Homo sapiens: one gene and its partners. The protein of the gene in region 1 purifies or fractionates together with the protein of each later gene. This does not show direct contact. Each region holds a gene or a part of one and is shown in the gene's direction. Other genes may lie near its edges.

Region 1 (4,312 bases):
TTTATTCATAAATTTAATAAGTATTATTTGAACATCTAAGAGCCAGGCATTGGCAAGTCAAGATTGAATAGGAAACAGTTGCTGCTCTCATGGAATTTGGAGCCTAGCTGGGATAAAGATAGAGAATTCTAGTAAAAATTGTGGTTACTGCTTTACAGGATTAGGGATATGTATGGATATCATGACAGGCCAGAGGGCAGAGCATATAACCTGCTCTAGGGTATATGTGCAAGGTGGTCAGAATAAAAAACGGATTCTTTTTTTTGTTTACGCCTCCATAAAAACCCAGAGAAAGGATTCTTGAGAGAGAAGTTGAGGGGCATTTTAGCTGGGTCAAGGAAGAGTAAAAGTTACCCAGGTTAGGAGTGGGAGCCCAGACAGGTGTGGGGCAGATGCTGCAGGCACTGAGTATCTGACTCAGCGGTGAGAACTTGCATGGGGCATTCGTGAGCTCCAAAGTAGTCTCATCATGCTTGAACCTCAAACATGCAGGGGAGGATGAAGCGTTTGTATATGGCTGTATTCTGATATGTTAATATTATCCTTTATTCCAGAAATAGGATTTTATATGCAGATGTATGCATCTATTTATTTATAGGAAAAGCTTAGCAGTGACAGCTAGAACATCAGTTCTTCTATACACCGCTTTCTCCTAACGCTTTTTCTGGTATCTAGGACTCACTTGAATGAAAATCCTGTTTCCATTGGTTATTCAGTCTTCTGCTTCTGAGAGCAGCTGCATGATGTCCTGTTGGTTATCACAAAGCCCTGTATTTTAGTAGAGGAATTTATGGAATATCATTCTCCTTGACCTGAGCCCAATTTTAATAACCAGCTTTAAAGTATACAAGCATATAATTAAATGAAAATAGCTAATGTAGGCTTTCTAGAGATAATTGTAATAATTGAAATTATGGAAAATAAAGTGAAAAAACTGCAGAGGTTTTACACTTGCTTTTTTTTCACTGGAATCCTGTTTTATTTTCCTTAACGAAAATGTGGGCTAGCATATGATATTTAGGCACATGGTTTACTAAACTTTTTTTGCATTTTTTAAAAAATGATTGTCTTTTTGACTGAAGAACTTAAGAAACTGTCATCGTGAATCAATGAAACTTACTAAGAATGGGATCCATTTGCAGCATCCTATAGCTTCTCTAAAATTCTGCCCCTAGGGACCCATGATATTATTGAGATTTATTATTAGTGAGATCACTTTGTGGGCATATCATTTTATCTTTGCGGTAGCTAGTTCCCCTTGGATGGTACCTGGAATAAGCATATTTGATAGTAAATTCTTTAAGTAAAGTCAAATGAGATCAACATGTCACTAAATACTTTCATTGTATATTGTGCTTTAAGATACATCTTTCCTTTGTAGCAGCTCAGTACCTATTTATTAGACGTGAAGCTTTATATTTCTTTCTTTAGATTAGTAATCTTTTTATACATATTGATAGGCCTTCTCTAATTCCAAGTTCAGATACAACCTATTGACAGTGTTTAGAGTTGCTTTATTCAGCAGTACACATTGCGAAGCTGCTCCCTGCTATAATACAGTGTCATTGTTGATGTAAGCACTTTCAAGGGTTCTTTTTTGTGTTTATACAGGCATGCCAGAATCACTCTTGTACTGCTCCCTGCACGATCCAGTCAGCCCCTGCCCGGCTGGTTATGTAACAAACAAGGTGTGTTTTCAGAAGGGTCTCCAAGGCTGCAGCTTTGTCCCAGGAAGTCAGCCTATGGTGTATCCCTCAGATGCTCAGATCCCACTGTCTGGGATGATCCCTTATACCTTTTCCTTATTTCGATAATTATAGTGGGATGGGATGGTTTATAAGACTTAGAGTAGGGCTGCCTAAGGATGAGGTTAAGATGAAGAACACTGTATCCTCAGCATTTTCATTGTTGCAAAAAAATTTGAGGGTAGAGGAGGGTCAAATACATGCCAAAAAAAGAAATTGCTATGATAGGGGAAAACGATAGTCTTTCGGCGCCATGCTTTGTTGGATTTTTAACAACTTCAGGAAGAGTGGGGAAAGTTGCTGATGAGTATTATCACATGTATAACTATATATAGTAGAATCTCAATATAATATTGTCTGCTGGGTCTACAGCCAGAGATTTTGTCTAGTGAAGAACAGTATCAAAAGCACCTCATTAAAAGTGTTAGGCTGAGAGGTGGCCCCATTGGCATTATCCCTGAGGACAGCATTCTGGCAAAGCTTCAGTGTGTACTGCTACTTTACAAACGCAAATACTTTTCCTGCACTCACTTTATTAATGTCAGCAATATTTATTAATTGTGCCCCTCAGAACACTGTTTTTACTCATTCTCCTGTTTTAAGTTTCTATTTATTTTGTAGTTTGAATTCTAGAGAAAATACTTTGGCTGGGTATGGTGGCTCATGCATGTAATCCCAGCACTTTGGTAGGCCAAGGTGGGTAGATGGCTTGAGCCTCAGGAGTTCGAGATCAGCCTGTCCAACATGGCAAAACCCCATCTCTACTACAGATACAAAAATTAGCCAGGTGTGGTGGCACACGCCTATAATCCCAGCTACTTGGGAGGTGGAGGCAAGAGAATCACTTGAACCTGGGAGGCAGAGGTGGCAGTGAGCCAAAGTCGCACCAGTGCATTGCATTCTAGCCTGGGTGATAGAGCGAGACTCTGTCTCAAAAAAAAAAAAAAATACTTTGACTTCCATTTTCTACCCAAATTGTAAGGGAGAGAGGAATCATTTAACCAGTAATTCTGATGCCTTAGTATAAAATAAAACGACTATATGTTGGCCTGCCATCTATGTCCTTGTTGATCTGAGAAGAGGGATCTGTAGGGTAACCAAAGATAGAATTTTTTTTTCCCTTTTTTTAACTTTTATTTTTGTTTCGGGGGTACGTGTAAACATTGTTACATAGGTAAATTTGTGTCATGGGGGTTTGTTGTACAGATTATTTCATCACTGAGGTATTAAGCCTAGTACCCAATAGTTACCTTTTATCCTTCTCTCCCTCCTTTCACCCTTCACTCACAAGTAGACCCCAGTGTCTGTTGTTCCCTTCTTTGTGTCCATGTGTTCTCATCATTTAGCCCCCACTTATAAGTGAGAACATGTGGTATTTGATTTTCTGTTCCTGCATTTGTTTGCTAGGGACAATGGCCTCCAGTTCCATCTATGTTCCTGCAAAAGACGTGACCTCATTCTTTTTTATGGCTGTATAATATCCCATGGTATATATGTACCACATTTTCTTTATCCAATCTATCATTGATGGACATTTAGGTTGATTGCATGTCTTTGCTATTGTGAATAGTGCTGCAATGTACATTTGCATGCATGTGTCCTTATGGCGGAATGATTTATATTGCTCTGGGTATATGCCCAGTAACGGGATTGCTGGGTTGAATGGTAGTTTTGCTTTTAGCTCAAAGATAGAATATTACTAATATATACTCTCTTGAACTAGGAGATTTAAGTCTTTAATTCTATATCTAACTCAGTCTAGTAAACACTAGATATTAAAAATGTATAGGGCCCTAGACTGTGCTTTTGGGATACATACATGAATTGGGATACTCTAGTCAGACAAATAAAGAATGGTGTAATAAGTGCTATCATTTCTATAAAGAAATAAATACAAATTGATGTAAGAGCATAGAGGAGTGAGTGATCGATTATGTCCAGGAGGTTTGGAGATCAGATTAATATGTGAACTCAGTGTCTCAATGGACACGTAGTATTTTGCCAGGCAAAGAAGTAGAAGTTCCAGCACCTAGAAATAATAAATACTTGAGGTGATGGATACTTAAATACTCTGACATGATTATTACACTTGCCCTATATGTAAGATGTCTCACATGTACCCCATAACATTATACAAATATGTATCAATAAAAAAAAGAAAAAGAAATACGGAACTGTCAGTCAAAAGGAACAGTGTGATCAAAGTCTGTGGTATATTCAGGAACAGCAAGGGTTAGGTAGGGGTGGGGCAGGTGGGATAGGGGAGAGCAGAAGATGTTAGAAAAGTATAACAAAGAATTCTTGGTGGGTAGCTCAAAAGTTGTCTTATATGACCACTGAAGGATTATCTGTAAGCTATAAGATCCTATTACCCACCATGTCTGGATATTGAATTGTCACCATCTCTGCAGTTGTAAAGAAGAATTATTGCTTTATCATTTTAATTATTTTATTTTTATTTGCATTTTACTCTTGCTAATTCCTCATCATTTTGCTCCATGGCAGTCTGTGTCTGTGTGGAGTGTTGCAGGACGAGTGGAAATGACTGTTTCCAAGTTCATGGCAAT
Region 2 (4,312 bases), about 83 Mb from region 1:
CCCAGCTCTGTCCTGAGGCTCTGACCCATCCAGCCTTTGCACCCCAACAAACTGAACTCAGAGAGGTCCCTGCAAAACACAGCTGCCTCCTCGTGCCCACCTCCCCTGTGATTTCCCTGGCTTCTGGCAAGAGAAGAGAAGACGTGAGCAAAAGCTCAAGGGCAGAGATGAGTAAACAGGAACGGGGCGTGAAACTCAAACTCAGGGTGTGGGGATGGGATGGGGTGGAGTGGAGTGGAAGTGGGAATTTGAGGTGAGGTGAGACTGAAGGCCGGGGGACACGGCAGGCTGGGTCATGATGGGCCCAGAGACTCGAGCCAGGCAGATGTGACGTGAGGACTGGACATTCTAGACGCAAGGGAGGGCTGCAGTCAGCACTTTAGGCCTCTTTACCTCCTGTCGTTCCTGAGTGACTCTAGAAAGTTTCTTGAGAGCACTGGGCGAGAGGCTGGGAAGTCACAGGAAAGAAGCAGAGAGGAGGCTGGCCTGCAGGCTGATGGGCAATGTCTGGGCCAAGCCCATGTGGTAAATGCACATCTATCCCTCTCCTGTCCAGGCATGTGGGGCCTCGTTAACAATGCCGGCATCTCAACGTTCGGGGAGGTGGAGTTCACCAGCCTGGAGACCTACAAGCAGGTGGCAGAAGTGAACCTTTGGGGCACAGTGCGGATGACGAAATCCTTTCTCCCCCTCATCCGAAGGGCCAAAGGTGAGTGGGAAAGGGAGCTCCCTCCTGCCCCTGAACCTGCCCCACGTGTTCATCTTTGCTCAGAATGGAAATACCTGTCCCAGCAGCTCCAATGTCCACAACTCAGCAGAGGTGAGCTCGTGAATCCCAGGGACTATGCTGGGCCTGGGGTGATGGTGGGCAGAGGGGCTGTGGCCGGGTAGGGGAGGAGGAAGCAGAGCAGGTAAGAGGTCAGTGGTCCATGCAGCAAAAGCTTAAAGAGTTGAGCAGCCATCCACTCTGCACACCTAATCTATAGAGAGAATCACCCTTTGCACAAAGCTGTGTGTACACATCTTTGTATCAGTCAGGTGTGGTTAGTAAAATCTGGCATATTCATTCTATGGGTTATTTATATCGTAGTTTAAAAAATGAGATCATTGTGGTATTAGGGAACAATAGTAAAAATCAAGATTAGAAATTTGGAAAACCAACAAAACACCCAAACCATGTGGGTGGCCAAATGTGAGCAAACCACTTTAGAAGTCATTGACTTGGATTTTTTTCTCTGGCATAGCAAACAATTGTGGCAAAAAGGGTAAGATCCATACATCTATGGTGAAGTCCTAGCAACAACAAGCATGAACACAGACTGCAGCTGTAGGATTTTAGATGGAAACCCCAACCCTTCAGTGACTTCAAATTTAGAGCTTTCTGAAAGGTGCCTCCCCCAGGATGGGCTGAGTTCCCTCCCGGGGACACACCTGGATGGGCTGAGTGCCCTCCCGGGGACACACCTGGATGGGCTGAGTGCCCTCCCGGGGGCACACCTGGATGGGCTGAGTGCCCTCCCGGGGGCACACCTGGATGGGCTGAGGGCCCTCCCGGGGGCACACCTGGATGGGCTGAGTGCCCTCCCGGGGGCACACCTGGATGGGCTGAGTGCCCTCCCGGGGACACACCTGGATGGGCTGAGTGCCCTCCCCGGGACACACCTGGATGGGCTGAGTTCCCTCCCAGGAAAACTGGTCCCAGATCCGCCTCGGCTTCCCGGGCTGGGCCAAATGCAATCCACTTCCAACCCCTCTGTTCCCAGGGCCAGGAGGAGCTGTGGGAGGCCCCTGATGCCCCCAGGCTGGGCCTGTGGCCTTTGGAGGGGGATCACCACACTCTCCCAGTGCCCAGGACTCTCTCCTCATATCCTAGCCCTGAAGTCAGGTTCAGAAATCCTGCCCCTGCCCCTGCCTGCTGCTCTGTTTGCCAGGCGGTCCTGGTCTCCACCCAGGCTCCACCCTACCAGGGTGGAATGGAGTTGGGGAGTTGGGCCTAACAGCACGGGTCCTGTCCTCTTTCAGGGCTGTCCCGGGGCTCCCTCCCAGCTGCAGCCCCAGGTACTTCCTCGTCTGCACTCCAACCCCCATCGCCAGGGCTGCTGTCAGTGGCTAGACACTTGGCCCTAGTGTGCTACTTATCTGCACGTCGTACTACTGGAGCTGGACTTTAAGCTCCATAAGGGGAAGGGGAAGCTTTCAGGCTGTATTTCTCCCTCACCAGCACCAGACCTTGCCTATAGTGAAAGCTCAGATCCACACAGACAGCTGTCTCGCCTCCCACTTCTCCCCTCGTGTTTTCACCCCAAATTATCACCGCATCGGGCTTGATCTGGTTTTTGAGTCAGTTGCGTGTTGCCCATTACACTGTGCCCTGCTGCTTCTCACTCACTTGTCCTCCCCTGTCCTGCCTGGCACAGCCAGGTTCCCAGGGAAGACCAGGGGTGCCGATGCTGATGCGTGGGCCTGAGCTGGCCTTGCCTATTGACTGAGAAGGCTCCTGGGTGGCTCAGAAGTGGTTCCAGCCAAGCCTCTAGAGACATGCCAGACTTCTGCCCGCTGTGTCATAGGGCAGTAACGGCTTAGCAGGTACCTCTGTCTCCCTCTGTAGGCCGCGTCGTCAATATCAGCAGCATGCTGGGCCGCATGGCCAACCCGGCCCGCTCCCCGTACTGCATCACCAAGTTCGGGGTAGAGGCTTTCTCGGACTGCCTGCGCTATGAGATGTACCCCCTGGGCGTGAAGGTCAGCGTGGTGGAGCCCGGCAACTTCATCGCTGCCACCAGCCTTTACAGCCCTGAGAGCATTCAGGCCATCGCCAAGAAGATGTGGGAGGAGCTGCCTGAGGTCGTGCGCAAGGACTACGGCAAGAAGTACTTTGATGAAAAGATCGCCAAGATGGAGACCTACTGCAGCAGTGGCTCCACAGACACGTCCCCTGTCATCGATGCTGTCACACACGCCCTGACCGCCACCACCCCCTACACCCGCTACCACCCCATGGACTACTACTGGTGGCTGCGAATGCAGATCATGACCCACTTGCCTGGAGCCATCTCCGACATGATCTACATCCGCTGAAGAGTCTCGCTGTGGCCTCTGTCAGGGATCCCTGGTGGAAGGGGAGGGGAGGGAGGAACCCATATAGTCAACTCTTGATTATCCACGTGTGGATTATCCACCATGCCAGGAAGACCCATAACTGGTTTTAACACTAACTAGAGGGAATGACTTCTTTGCATAGTGAGTGACTTGGGCCTTCACAAACAGGGTGTGGAGTGGCAGGCAGAGGCCTCTAAATCTCAGGGCAAACATGGTGAATCTATCTCTCCGGAGATAATTTCATACAGAGATTTTAAGAAAACATCTTTATATTAAAAACAGATCTCATTTGATCCTTAAGCCAGTCTCATGAATGAAAAGGACAGGTTTTTTTCTTTTGTAAATGAAGCATTTGCAGCTTAAAGAGGATGCATGAAATAACCCTTTTATCGCTTATAAATAGTGCCAGTTATGTGTTCCTGCCACGGCTGTGGAAATACTTCACATTTGCATTCCAGGACTGTTTTGGATCCATTTGCCCGAGAATCTTCTGACTAACTCTGTGTCCTCATCTGGGCAGCACACACCAAGTGCCCACTGGTACCTCTGCATGTCCATGGTGCTGTGTGACTGGCCAGCCAGCAGCCAGTGACTCAGAGCTGGCTGTATGGAGGGGGTGGGAATGTTTCTGGAGATTTTTGTTTTTCCAGACACAGTCTTGCTCAGTCCCCTAGGCTGGAGTGCAATGGCACCATCTCCGCTCACTGCAACCTCCGCCTCCCTGGTTCAAGCGGTTCTCCTGCCTCAGCCTTCCAAGTAGCTGGGGTTATAGGCACCCACCACCATGCCGGGCTAATTTTTGTATTTTTAGTAGAGATGGGGTTTCACCATGTTGGCTAGGCTGGTCCCGAACTCCCGACTTCAAGTGATCCGCCTGCCTTGGCCTCCCAAAGTGCTGGGATTACAGGCATGAGATTTTTACTTGAGATTTTTCCATCCTCTTTTAGGACTCAGGATAGACTTGTGTGGAGGTGCTCTCTGGCTAAGGGGATAAGTTGTTACTGGTTTGGGTCTGCTTGGTTTTGCCTTGGGTGGGGCCGGTGTCGATGGGGCAGGCTTGGCACGAGCAGTGGTGCCATGGCAGGGCACTGTGGCATCTCCCCTAGCAGTGGATTTGGGGTCCCTGCTTGCCTCACGTGGTGCTTACACACATGTACACACACACACACACACACACACACACACACACCTTACACACATGTACACACACACA
Region 3 (4,312 bases), on another chromosome or scaffold:
TGAAATATTTTTAGCCCTTGCCATTCCTGAGGTCTCCTACATCCAATCTAATGCTGATCTTTCTTTTGCAGTTTTTCTACTATCAATCTTTCCTTAACCATTCTTAAAGCTCTCTCAGATCCATCCATCCATGACTTTCCCTATTCACTATTGCTGATCCAGCCACTATTTCTTACTGGGATTAGTCCTAGAAGCCTCCTCATTCCATTTCTTAACCTTCTAATTGAACTTGCTGCTATTTGCAAACAAAGTTTTATTGGAATAGAGCTATGTTGATTTGTTTATGTATGGTCTGTGGCTGCTTTTGCACTGTAATGGCAGAGTAATTGTGACAGAGACCATATGGCCTGCAAAGCCTAAAATATTTACTGTCTGGCCTGTTACAGAAAAAGCTTGCAATTCTGCTCTAAGCTATTCTCCACACTGTAGCTAAACAGCTTTCTAAAACAGTTAGGTCATGTCACGCCCCCACTTGTAATCTTTCGTGTCTTATAAGGAGACCCTCATCTCTCTCACCGTGCTTTACCCTTGGCTGCGTGCTTCCAGAGTGTGTTCATGCTTCCATTGTATACGTACCATTTTGTATTTTAATGCTTAATCGTCTTCCTCACTGGACTCGGCCCCAGTATTTTGTTCCCCTTTGTATCTCTGGGATACTAGGTATGCAAGAAACATTTGACATCTGAGTAATTGCTGTATTTCTTTAAATGCATGTGTTATAGGTACCTGTCTATTGCACTAAGACTGGTGTAAAACATTTGCACCACAAGGCTCAAGAGTTTGACATTGGAGTTTATTTTGAAGCAAATGGGCATGGCACTGTAAGTTCTCTTAATTATAGTTGGCCTTAGCTGGCACTTTTCTTTATGATGAGACTTCTATATCTGGGAGGTAATAATAGGTAATATTGTACTTTGTTGAAATAATTGGATGTGACAAAAAGATCCTTTGGTTATCTTATATATTGATGTATTATGAAACTGTGATTCTCTTTTACATGGTAATGATTCTTCTTTGAATGTGAAGAGATATACTAAGGTGTTTTGAATAGTTTTTTAAAATTTACAGTTCTTAATTTTTTTATAAGTATGTTGTCTATGCATTTTCCGGCTGGCCATAGGAGAGGAAAAGAAAAATTCAGTCGCTATGGTGAATTGCAAAGTGTTGGAAAGTTGATAATTAATAAGAAATGAAAATGAATTTAAGGTAACTAGTGATAGGCATAAAATGTTTCAATTTACATTTTACATAAAATTACATTTTAAAGTGTATAATTTAGTTTTTTGTAGATTCATAATGTTCAGAATATTTTTAAAATGTTTTTATACTCACCTCATTTAATGAATACACTTGAGGTGGCTATCAGAACATTTGAATCAAAGCCAAATAATTTTCCTCATTAATTTAAAATTGGCTTTTGGAGGGCATAAATATAAAAAGGGGAAAAATAAGTTCCTACAAAATGCAATTAAGATATAACTTTAGTGATCGAATGGAGAAGTTGGTAAATTATTTTCTAAAGGGTAGAGAGTAAATATTTTTGGATTTTCAGGCCATAAGGTCTCTTACAGTTGTTTAACTCTGCTGATCTAGCTTAAATGAATCTGTGTGGTTGTGTTCCAGTAAAACTTTACAAAAACAGGTGACTAGCCTGTGCCTTATTTTATCAAGAAAAATGTATTTCATCAAGTAGTTGAGCATAGTATGCTAATCTTGCTCAGTATTAGGCCTCTAGAAGGCAGTAAAAAAGATGAGTATTTCCAAATGAGATAAGACTCTTGAGGAGCATGATGAATTATATATTGTAATGACTATCCATGACATTATTTGCCATATTTTGATGAATACTATGAACTCTTAATTTTGCCTAGCTCATCCCCTTAAGTTTTAGAATAAAACTATACTAGCTGCAATGAATTATATCCTTCAAAGTAAAAAGGATACAGACAGGCTCTAAGTAACCTGGTTGCACAGAAATGATTTAGCTGGTTAAAGGGAAAACATGAACTTACTGTGTGTGCTTGCCTCTTGTCAAGGTGGTGTTTTCTTTGTAATCAGATGTTTAAATTTTTATAACCAGTTATATAATCCGCAAATAAAATTTTTCCCCTAGTACTATCCTCTGGGTTTTAATGTGATCTTACATTAATTTCATACATTTTAAGGCTGCCACTATTTTTCCCCTCAGTTTCTCCAGATTGACTAGGAGGGAAAAGTGGGTTAGCTAGAATAATAGTACTTATGACTAGGTTTTGGATAGTGTTTTGAGACTGATTTTATATTCTTTTGCTGCAGGCACTGTTTAGTACAGCTGTTGAAATGAAGATAAAACAATCAGCAGAACAACTGGAAGATAAGAAAAGAAAAGCTGCTAAGATGCTTGAAAACATTATTGACTTGTTTAACCAGGTCAGAACTGATGGGGCAGTGGACTCTTGGTTACCTTTACATTATTCAGAAGATGGACAGAACAGAGTGTGGGTGCATACAAAATTAAAGTGGAGACGTCCTGGCCTGGTGGCTTCCTTCTAATAGTGGTATATTCAGTTGAGATTTATAATGAAATGGAATGACAGAACATTTTTTAATATGCTTCCCTTCCCCTACCTCTTATGATGGAAATTTTCAAGTATATTGGGTAGCTTCTACCTAGGATCACAGATTCAGCTACTCAGTGTATACATATATATTATTAATTTTTTTTTAACCAAACCTCGATGAAATTAAGTAAAAATAACTGGTTGTCAGGCCAGGCACGGTGGCTCATGCCTGTAATCCCAGCCCTTTGGGAGGCCAAGGAGGGCGGATCACGAGGTCAGGAGATCGAGACCCTCCTGGCTAACAGGGTGAAACCTCGTCTCTACTAAAAATACAAAAAATTAGCCGGGCATGGTGGCGGGCACCTGTAGTCCCAGCTACTCGGGAGGCTGAGGCAGGAGCATGGTGTGAACCCGGGAGGCAGAGCTTGCAGTGAGCCAAGATCACGCCACTGCACTCCAGCCTGGGTGACAGAGCGAGACTCTGTCTCAAAAACAAACACAAATAACTGGTTGTCTCATTGACAAAGGACATACATGTGGGTTAGTTGGGGTTGGAGTGTCGTTTGGCTATGGAAAAGCAGTACTCAGGGTAGAGGAAAGCGATTCAATTATTTGAGTGTCTTGCACACACTGGACACTTTATATACCTTGCTGTGTAATCCTTACAGTAACACAGGGAGAGGTGTTACTGTAATTTCCATTTTATAAGTGAAGAAACAGAGATTTATCTTCAGTTATATCTTATACCAAAGCTCATATTTCTCCATTTTACCTTGATGCTTTCTATCAATCATTGTGGGGTAATATCTCAAAAGGGATCTATTTATAAAAAGAAAAATGAGTGATGGAATGTTAGGCTGAGCCTTAGAGTTATCCAGTCTAATTTCATTTTATAAATAAGGAGTACTAAAGGCAAGTTTCTCAAGAGCTAGTTTCAGTATTCTTTGTTATACCTTTCATTGTCTTCCACAGAGATCTTCACCTCATTGTTCGTATTTTATCCATCCACAAAAACACTTCATTTAATCATGCTGCATGTGAGAAAGCACATGATATAGGCTGAGTATCCCTTATCCAAAATGCATGGGACTAGAAGTGTTTTGGGTTCCAGATTCACTGGATTTTGGGATATTTGCATATATATAATGTGACATCTTGGGTATGGCACTCAAGTCGGAAACACTAAATTCTTTTGTTTCATGTATGTTACATAAGATTAAAGGTGGTTTTATAGAATACTGTAAATTTAGTGCATGAAACAAAGTTTGTGTCTACTGAACCATCAGAAAGCAAAGGTGTCACTCTGTCAGCCACCCGTTGGACAATCTGTGGTTGTCTGGCATCACCATCATTCCTAAAACTCTGAATTTATATGCTATCAATCAATAAGCAATCAATCATTTTTTTACACTTATTCACACACAAGTATTTTAATAGTAAAAAATATGATACATATCTGGCATGCATGGAAACGATGTATCATAGCTGAAGGAGGCTGAGAGGGTCTTTTTCCCTTGGGGATGCTGAATGAACTGCGGGCCTGCCTTTAGTGGGTTTTTTTTGTTGTTGTTGTTGTTTTGTTTTGAGATGGAGTCTCGCTCTGTTGCCCACGCTGGAGTGCAGTGGCGCAATCTTGGCTCACTGCAACCTCTGCCTCCCGGGCTCAAGCAATTCTCCTGCCTCAGCCTCCCGAGTAGATGGGATTACAGGCGCCCACTACCACACCTAGCTAATTTTTGTATTTTTAGTATAGATGGCGTTTTACCATGTTG
Region 4 (3,495 bases), on another chromosome or scaffold:
CACCTGATCAAGAGCAGTGCTTCTCCATTTGTTTTGCAGAGAAATGTTTTTCATTTCCCGTGTGTTTCCATTTCCTTCTGAAATTCTGATTTTATCCATTTTTTTAAGGCTCCTCTTTATCTCCTTTCTTAAGGCACTGTTGCTATGGCACTTTTCTATAACCTTTTCATTCCTGTGTACAGTAGCTTAAAATTGCAGTGATTGAGCATAACCTACTTGTTTGTATAAATTATTGAAATCCATTTGCACCCTGTTAAGAATGGACTTAAAAGTACTGCTGGACAGGCATGTGTGCTCAAAGTACATTGATTGCTCAAATATAAGGAAATGGCCCAATGAACGTGGTTGTGGGAGGGGAAAGAGGAAACAGAGCTAGTCAGATGTGAATTGTATCTGTTGTAATAAACATGTTAAAACAAACAAAAATTGTTATTTTTCTTTTCCTTCGGTCAGTGCACATTAGCATTTGAACTACCTGGGGATTCTTTATCAGAACTGTTCTTGTTGAATATTTATACTTAATTGAAATAATTCCTTAAGGGAGGTTTTGTTTAAAACGTATTAACAGGAAATTGTGTATGAGATATTTAATGAAATAAGAAATTCAACAAGAATGATTAAGTCACTTCCCAAGTGGTTGTCATTTGTTAAACCCTGGTTTACCTGTCTTGCTATTATGACATTTCATTTGGAAGGATGTTTGTGTTGTAGCTAACTGTTCAAGTCTGGTGCTGACTGCTGTTCTTAGCCATCACAAAACGCTAAATTTGTGTAATTGGAGCTTCCTGCTGTTATCTGGAAATAGCAGGAAAGCGCAGCTTTGTATATTGTTTCCTAAAGTATATTAAAATAAAAAAAGAAACTATTGCTACTATAAAATTACCTTGACTTTTTTTTTCCTTTGCTGAAATATTAGTCACATAGCCTTAGCTTCACACTGCCAGTAATGTATCAAATCACAAGGGTTTCCGCATGAAAAAAATCTTTTCTTCCCCCACAAAAAAACCTTTACCATCAAAATCTTGCCATCTGATTTAGAAAGGTGTTTCTTCTTCTTCTTCTTTTTTTTCTTTAAATTGGTTTAGGGTTTTTTGGTGATTTTTTTTTTTTTTTTTTTTCTGTTGGGGCAGATAAGTGCTTCCAAAACTGGCAGCACCAAGGGCTTATTTTTTATGTTAGACATCAATGTCAATGTTACTACATTCTCGGATGCTAACATAAATTTTGAAATTGCTCTTGTGCTTTAAGCATATATTGAAAGTATGGAAGTTAAATGTTCAGGCTTTTCAGTAAGCTCAAAAAGTTAACTGTAAGCGATAGTGTTGGTGTTTTCTAAAATACAAAAATGTTCCAGTGTAATTAAAAGGAATTAAAATCTTGAAGATATTTTCCTGTAATTTAAGGATACTTTTTAAATGTAAGAAAAGACATGTCATTAATTTATTGTCATGTTTATACCTCTGTGAGATTGTTAACATCTGCTGAATTTAACTAGTGCATGTAAATGAAACCCCAAAGAGCTGTGTGTTCAGCTAGAAACCTTACTGTATCTTTCCTGGAAAGAAGTGAGCAATTTGTTGTAATAGGCAAATGTTTCCTGATCAGATGGCAATTTGTGATTTAGGTAAATTTGAATTTGATTTGCTTATAGTCTACTGGTCTGTGTACCTATGTTTTGTTTTTCAAAAAAGTTTACATCCCTAAATGAATTAGTCACATATATTTAGGAGAAGATGCCTAATTTGGTATTTCTTAATAGTGAATTTTTTTTTTTCTTGAGACAGAGTTTCACTCTTGTTGCCCAGGCTGGAGTGCAATGGCACGATCTCGGCTCACCGCAACCTCTGCCTCCTGGGTTCAAGCGATTCTCCTGCCTCGGCGTTCCGAGTAGCTGGGATTACAGGCATGCACCACCACGCCTGGCTAATTTTGTATTTTTAGTAGAGATGGGGTTTCTCCATGTTGGTCAGGCTGGTCTTGAACTGCCAACTTCAGGTGATCTGCCTGCCTTGGCCTCCCAAAGTGCTGGGATTACAGGCGTGAGCCACCGCTCCTGGCCAGTAGTGAATTTTTAAACACAGAAAATCTAAAATTTTGTGGAAATATTTTAAATATTGCACCTTAATACAAGGTATCCAGCTCCTAACCTTAACTAGGGAATATCTATTAAAATAAGCATAATGTTCTGGACTAGAGTATTCCTTATCTAGTTGGTTATGGATTTGAACATGTACCTTGGTTTAGATACTTTGAAAATAGAAGTACTGAATAGCCTCTAGGGAACTTGAGTGGCCTTTCCCTCCCCCTGCCCCCCCCCCCCCCCCCCCGTTTTAAAAGATCAGTAGTCTCTATTCAAACTTTTAAAATGTCGTGGTATTGTAACAATATATTTGATGAAAGAAGGTTACAGACTCCCCTGAAGAACCAGCTTTCCTACGCTTTTTATTTTTCTAACTTGTCTAACCTGATTTTAAAATGACTGCAATTCCAGACTAAAAACATGCTTCAGCCCTGTTTCAAGACATTATGCTTCTTTTAACAGTCCAAATTAGTAGTTTTATTTTTCTTCTAAATCTTTGTTTCACACTTGTAAAATCTTGGGAAGGAGGTTCTTAAAACTTTGCCAGGAATTGTTACCCATTTCCAAAAACAGTTTATTATGTTCAAAAACCACCATATCTTTGAGGGACTGTTTGAAAGGGGAGAGGGCAACGCGGGAAATAATTCACTCTGCGCACCGGAACTATTGTAGTTCAGGACTTCCAGCTACTGTATTTAGATGTTGGGTTTGAATATACAGATTTCTTTTCAATACCTGTAAATATGGCTATATTCTTGTATTTGTACGGGAGTGTACAAAATGACACTGAAAAGTAATAAATATGTTTTGACTATATTGTGCAGTTATTTCAGAACTGTGTTTTGAAAGTCTTAGAATGCATAATTTGCATTTGAGTAAGGAAATTTAAAATACAGATTACTGCTGAGATTTTAATCAGTCGGTGTGTTTCAATAGTCTCTGAAACATTTTAGTGAAAATTATGACGTAAAATTGGGATTCTTTAGGTCCTGCTCTAATTTGCGGTACCCTCCTTTTCCTGATCACGACCTTTGATAGTGCCCTAAAGTGCAGCCTGTCTAGAAGATCTCATCCAGGCTCTTGGCTCTAAAAACCCCTTCATGTGCTACTTTACATCCCGATTATCTCCAGCCCTGATCTCTTTGAGTTCCCAAAAACAGTCCACTTAGATGCTTTCCTTAACACGGCATGCACTCCAAAAAGAACTCACGGTTTGTGCCTCAGATTATTCTCTTTTAGTTTTTTAGTAATTGACACCATCATTGTTAAAGTTGCCCAAAACCCAAATCAAGTCATCCTTCTTTTCTAACACTCGATATTTAATCCATCAAGACCCACAAGCTCTTTGAAAATGTTTCCTTAATGTTCACCTCTCTAGTCCAATCCACGATCATCTTTGAACCAAATCCCTGCCA
Region 5 (4,312 bases), on another chromosome or scaffold:
CTTCCAGGTAGGGAGACACAGTTGTACAAAACTTGATTTTTAAAATGAGGAAAGCAATGCTTAAAGGGGTGCTTTCATTTTCATTTGGCCTTACACAGGTTTGGAGTCAGGACCAGGACTAAAATTACATCTTCTGATAATTAAGAAATGACAGTAATGTTACAGCTAGGAGCAGCTTTTCTGATATAGCTGGCACATATTAGGGTGCATGGATTTTCAAAGCCATGTCTGCCCTTTGCTCCTGCTACCCCTGCAGAGTGCACGGCCTGGAGATAGAGGGCAGGGACTGTGGCGAGGCCACCGCCCAGTGGATAACCAGCTTCCTGAAGTCACAGCCCTACCGCCTGGTGCACTTCGAGCCTCACATGCGACCGAGACGTCCTCATCAAATAGCAGACTTGTTCCGACCCAAGGACCAGGTGAGAGGTTCTGCTGCCTCCATGGGTAGAAAGCAGTCACCCCCAGATCAGGGGGCTCAGGTGGCATCTCTGATGACCTCGGCTCTGTTGTTTTCTGGGGCAGCCCTCTGGTAGCTCAGATCACAAGCAGTAGGCAGAAATAAAGCCCTTCCCTTGGAAGCATTGTTTGTTTCTTTGTTTGGGGGACTCTTGAATTTTTGCCCTTGAGCATCTACCTTCCTATTTGTGTAAGCATTCTGATGCCAGTAGGGTTTCAAAACTGTTCTGCACCAGTGTCTTTTTTTCATTCCATTCTGTAATTGCACATGGAGTCCAGAATTTTTACAGTTTGCAGTTGTATGTCAGATTCCAATTGTGCAAGTTGGCATGGGTATGGAGATACACAGACTCAAATGATCAGCCTTAATGGCATAAAGCTCTAAGGATTCATCATAAAAGCAGGGTTTGTAGTACCATATACTGCTTTTACCATGGCCATAAAAAAAATAAATTATGCTGTAGTCCTTACTGCTAAGGAGGCTGAGGTGGGAGGATTGCTTGAGTCCAGAGAGTTGAGGCTGCAGTGATCTGTGATGGCACCATTGCACTACAGCCCAGGTGACAAGGAGTCTCTGTCTCAAAATATATAAATAAAGAAACAAGCAAATGCATAAATTATGGTCAACATAAATATTAATTTGTAAGTTGCATAAAATAAGTATTCATGGAATTAGTGAACATTTAAATCAAACATAATGAGGTCATCAAACTCAACCACCTTATTAAACATTTGAGAAATGGGAGGCTTAGAAAGGTTCAGTGATGTCCCCAAGGGCACATGCCTTGTGGCAGCTTAGGATTGATTCTGAGTCCTTGTTCCCTTCATTCCACCATGCAGTTTCTGCTATCTGCAAGGCTATTGAAAACTTCTGAGTCACTGTGACTTCTATTAAAAGAACAAGAGAACTACTTTGAAAGATTGTGTGTGGGGTGGGGTGGAGCATGGAGGCTATGTCTAGGAACTAGGCACACCTAACCACTGAAAAGTTGGTGTGCCATGTGTTATAACAATGTCTATTTCCTTATCAGATTGCTTACTCAGACACCAGCCCATTCTTGATCCTTTCTGAGGCGTCGCTGGCGGATCTCAACTCCAGGCTAGAGAAGAAAGTTAAAGCAACCAACTTCAGGCCCAATATTGTAATTTCAGGATGCGATGTCTATGCAGAGGTAACACTATGCCCCTTTGGATCTTTCCTTGGATTTGACTTCTTTTTTAAGGTATGAGAGTCTTTGACATTGGATTAGATTATTCTGAAGGGTGCATTATTTATCAACTCTGTAATACATAACAATTTGATTTTTAGATTTATTCAGCACTTAATAAGTGCAGACTTCTGTGTGGAGGATACAAATGTTGATGGGTCAGAGACTGTCATCAAGGAGGCAGTTCAGTATCTAAGGCTTCTAAGGAGAATTCTGAGTTGACAGGTTCGTTGTTGAGTCACATTTTCTTGCATAGACTACATGATCTGTGTGGGCCATGGAACAAAGAAAGTGTGTGCTCCTGTCTTGTTAAAGGATGGTCTTACTGTTTAGTAGACGGCTCTCTTGGAGAAGACAGGCATTTACTGCAAGGCTGCTGGGTGAGGGTTGGGAGAGGTTGTTGCCCCTAAGCTTCATGGCACTACCCTGAAATGCTTGCAGTGCCACCTTCCATCTGCCCTCAGATGTTTGCGTGGTGACTTAGCTTGAACAGCCCTGAGGCTTGGTTTCTGGGATTCCACAGGATTCTGGCAGCAAATTTACCTTTGTAATAAATGGCCTTTGGCTATTTAACTTGATTCTCTCCCTGGGCTTCCATGAAGGCAGAGGTTGGTGGCCTAGAGGCATGGTGAGTGGCCACCAGCTGTGGATACTCAACAGAAACCCTGACCCACAGCTAGGAATTCAGGAGCTCTGGTTGTGCCTCAAATTTATGTTGAGAAGGGAGAGGTAAAGGGGACCATATAGTGGTTCTTACGTCTGCCCATTTCCTCCATAACAGGGAAAAATGGAATCAAAGCAATTGAGTTTTAACCTTTTATCCTCAGAGGAGCCAATTATATTCTTCACTTTTGCTGTACGGAGGCAAAACTATGCTGAAAGAGAAATAATCTAAGAATTTGATTCCCACATTCAAACCAGAAGATGTGACGGCTGGTTTCAGCTTCTGCACTGGCTTCTGCATGACTTTGAGCAGCCCCGCTAAGTCCCATTTACCTTGCCTGAACAATGAGATGATCATATTTCTGCCTAGGGTTACCTTAAGGGTCTGTTGAAGGGTCAGTTTGGATAATGTAATTTATGAGATGTATAAAAGCAATATCAATCGATGGAGGATAATAAAAGTACGCCCAAATCCACTGCTAATGCTTCATATAAAATACTCATTGCTCCAAACTTCCAAGGGTAGCGTTTCTTCTAAAGATGGTGGAGAACTTCCTAGTGTGAGGCGGGTGGACTGTGTGCATGTCCCCCAAGGTCCTGGGTTGGGCATCTCTCAGTGCTTCTTTGTGACAAGAAATTTCTGCCTGTCCTGCTCCTGTGCACCATGGGCCAGCCTGACTTAGACAACAGGAAAATAATCAGTGTTTGGTTGCCTTTGACCATCTCCTTGATATTCATCTTCCACCAGCTATGGCTAGGAGAGCCATTTCTCCTGAGAACGTTCCTTCTCAGGAAAAGAGAAATGAGTGGGGAGGGTTTTGAATGAATACTTGTGTTGCGCTTAAGTATGTTGTCTCTTCTATGCCTCACGGCAGCCCAGCGGGATAAAGCTATCATTCCTATCTTACAGGAGAGAAGAGAGAGGCTTGGGGAGGTGAGGTGGCCTGCCCTAGGCTATACCACAGCAAGGAGGGGCTGGGTTTTGAACCCCAATTGTACAAGGCCAGAGGAACCCTGAGAATTCTAGGGCATATGTATGGGGCTGGGACAGCTGGATTCTAATCCACCTGCTTCCGCAAGTGACCGTACAAGCCTGGACAGGTCACCAAACTCGCCGAGGCATCTGCTTCTTGCAGTTGTAAAACACGGGCAGTTTCAATGACTCCCTCGCCTGATGGGAGCTGTGAGAATCAAGGTCGATGACAATTTGTGGAAAAGTTCTAGGACATTAAGTACCACAGGGAGGTAAGGAAGAGTTTCATTCCTGGGAGTTTGGCTCAGGTACCAGCTTTTTCCCTATGATCGACTTTAAGCTTTCTTTCTCCCCTGTGTGATTTGTGCACCGAGGGTCATGCTGAAGCCATTTCCACCCCAAAATTCTGTGACAGTAAGATTCGGATGACAGGAGAAGAGGAGATGGCCCAGAGTAGAACTTCAGATCTCGGAGATTTCTTTCAATTGAGTCTTACTCTAAAAACCCGTATCTCTCTCTCTATCTCTGAGTGTTCCCTAGTTGAGAACATTCTGTATGTGAAGCTGGGCGGTAACACAATGGTGGCTGAGCCGGCCTTGTTTTTAGTAATTCACCCATCATCGAGTGGGTTGCTGCCCCTGTGTGGCATGCGCTGTGAATAGACACATGAGAACAAGGGTTGAAGAAATGCACTTGCTTCTCCTAAGGAGCTCAGTGTGGTCAGATAGTGAAAAGTCACAGCACAGTGAGATATGGCCAGGAGGGTGGCGAGCAGCCAGACGTGGGGACGTGACTAACACCTGCATTGTGGGGTGAGCTGAAGCATGGGGCACCCAGGGCTCTGGTCTCAAACCCTTTCTCATTTGTCTGCACTCACTTTTCTGATCTGTTCTTTCTTTCCTTTTTTTTTTTTATTTAATCATCTGTTTTTAAGACCTTCTCTGCCCTGAGGACCCCTAACTATATCCTTCTGCCAGAGCTTTCCCCTGCTTCTCCATATCTCCATGTGGAT

What was found.
Region 2: the proteins of QTRT2 (region 1) and BDH1 purify together in Homo sapiens (affinity purification with mass spectrometry, with the first as the bait; one large-scale study listed by BioGRID). This does not show direct contact.
Region 3: the proteins of QTRT2 (region 1) and PGM3 purify together in Homo sapiens (affinity purification with mass spectrometry, with the first as the bait; one large-scale study listed by BioGRID). This does not show direct contact.
Region 4: the proteins of QTRT2 (region 1) and WAC fractionate together in Homo sapiens (co-fractionation; one large-scale study listed by BioGRID). This does not show direct contact.
Region 5: the proteins of QTRT2 (region 1) and MTARC1 purify together in Homo sapiens (affinity purification with mass spectrometry, with the first as the bait; one large-scale study listed by BioGRID). This does not show direct contact.

The regions. Positions count from the first base shown.
Region 1 is NC_000003.12:114,066,376-114,070,687, forward strand, and holds part of QTRT2 (queuine tRNA-ribosyltransferase accessory subunit 2), read left to right. Parts: intron 1-1,611; coding exon 1,612-1,688; intron 1,689-4,250; coding exon 4,251-4,312. UniProt on the Homo sapiens protein: Non-catalytic subunit of the queuine tRNA-ribosyltransferase (TGT) that catalyzes the base-exchange of a guanine (G) residue with queuine (Q) at position 34 (anticodon wobble position) in tRNAs with GU(N) anticodons (tRNA-Asp, -Asn, -His and -Tyr), resulting in the hypermodified nucleoside queuosine (7-(((4,5-cis-dihydroxy-2-cyclopenten-1-yl)amino)methyl)-7-deazaguanosine).
Region 2 is NC_000003.12:197,510,661-197,514,972, reverse strand, and holds part of BDH1 (D-beta-hydroxybutyrate dehydrogenase, mitochondrial precursor), read left to right. Parts: intron 1-556; coding exon 557-709; intron 710-2,608; coding exon 2,609-3,078; 3' UTR 3,079-4,312.
Region 3 is NC_000006.12:83,172,471-83,176,782, reverse strand, and holds part of PGM3 (phosphoacetylglucosamine mutase), read left to right. Parts: intron 1-722; coding exon 723-821; intron 822-2,295; coding exon 2,296-2,409; intron 2,410-4,312. UniProt on the Homo sapiens protein: Catalyzes the conversion of GlcNAc-6-P into GlcNAc-1-P during the synthesis of uridine diphosphate/UDP-GlcNAc, a sugar nucleotide critical to multiple glycosylation pathways including protein N- and O-glycosylation.
Region 4 is NC_000010.11:28,620,118-28,623,612, forward strand, and holds the end of WAC (WW domain-containing adapter protein with coiled-coil), read left to right. Parts: 3' UTR 1-2,995; downstream 2,996-3,495.
Region 5 is NC_000001.11:220,796,387-220,800,698, forward strand, and holds part of MTARC1 (mitochondrial amidoxime-reducing component 1 precursor), read left to right. Parts: intron 1-256; coding exon 257-419; intron 420-1,487; coding exon 1,488-1,628; coding exon of another isoform or gene 1,629-1,679; intron 1,680-1,765; exon of another isoform or gene 1,766-1,889; intron 1,890-2,445; exon of another isoform or gene 2,446-2,803; intron 2,804-4,312. UniProt on the Homo sapiens protein: Catalyzes the reduction of N-oxygenated molecules, acting as a counterpart of cytochrome P450 and flavin-containing monooxygenases in metabolic cycles.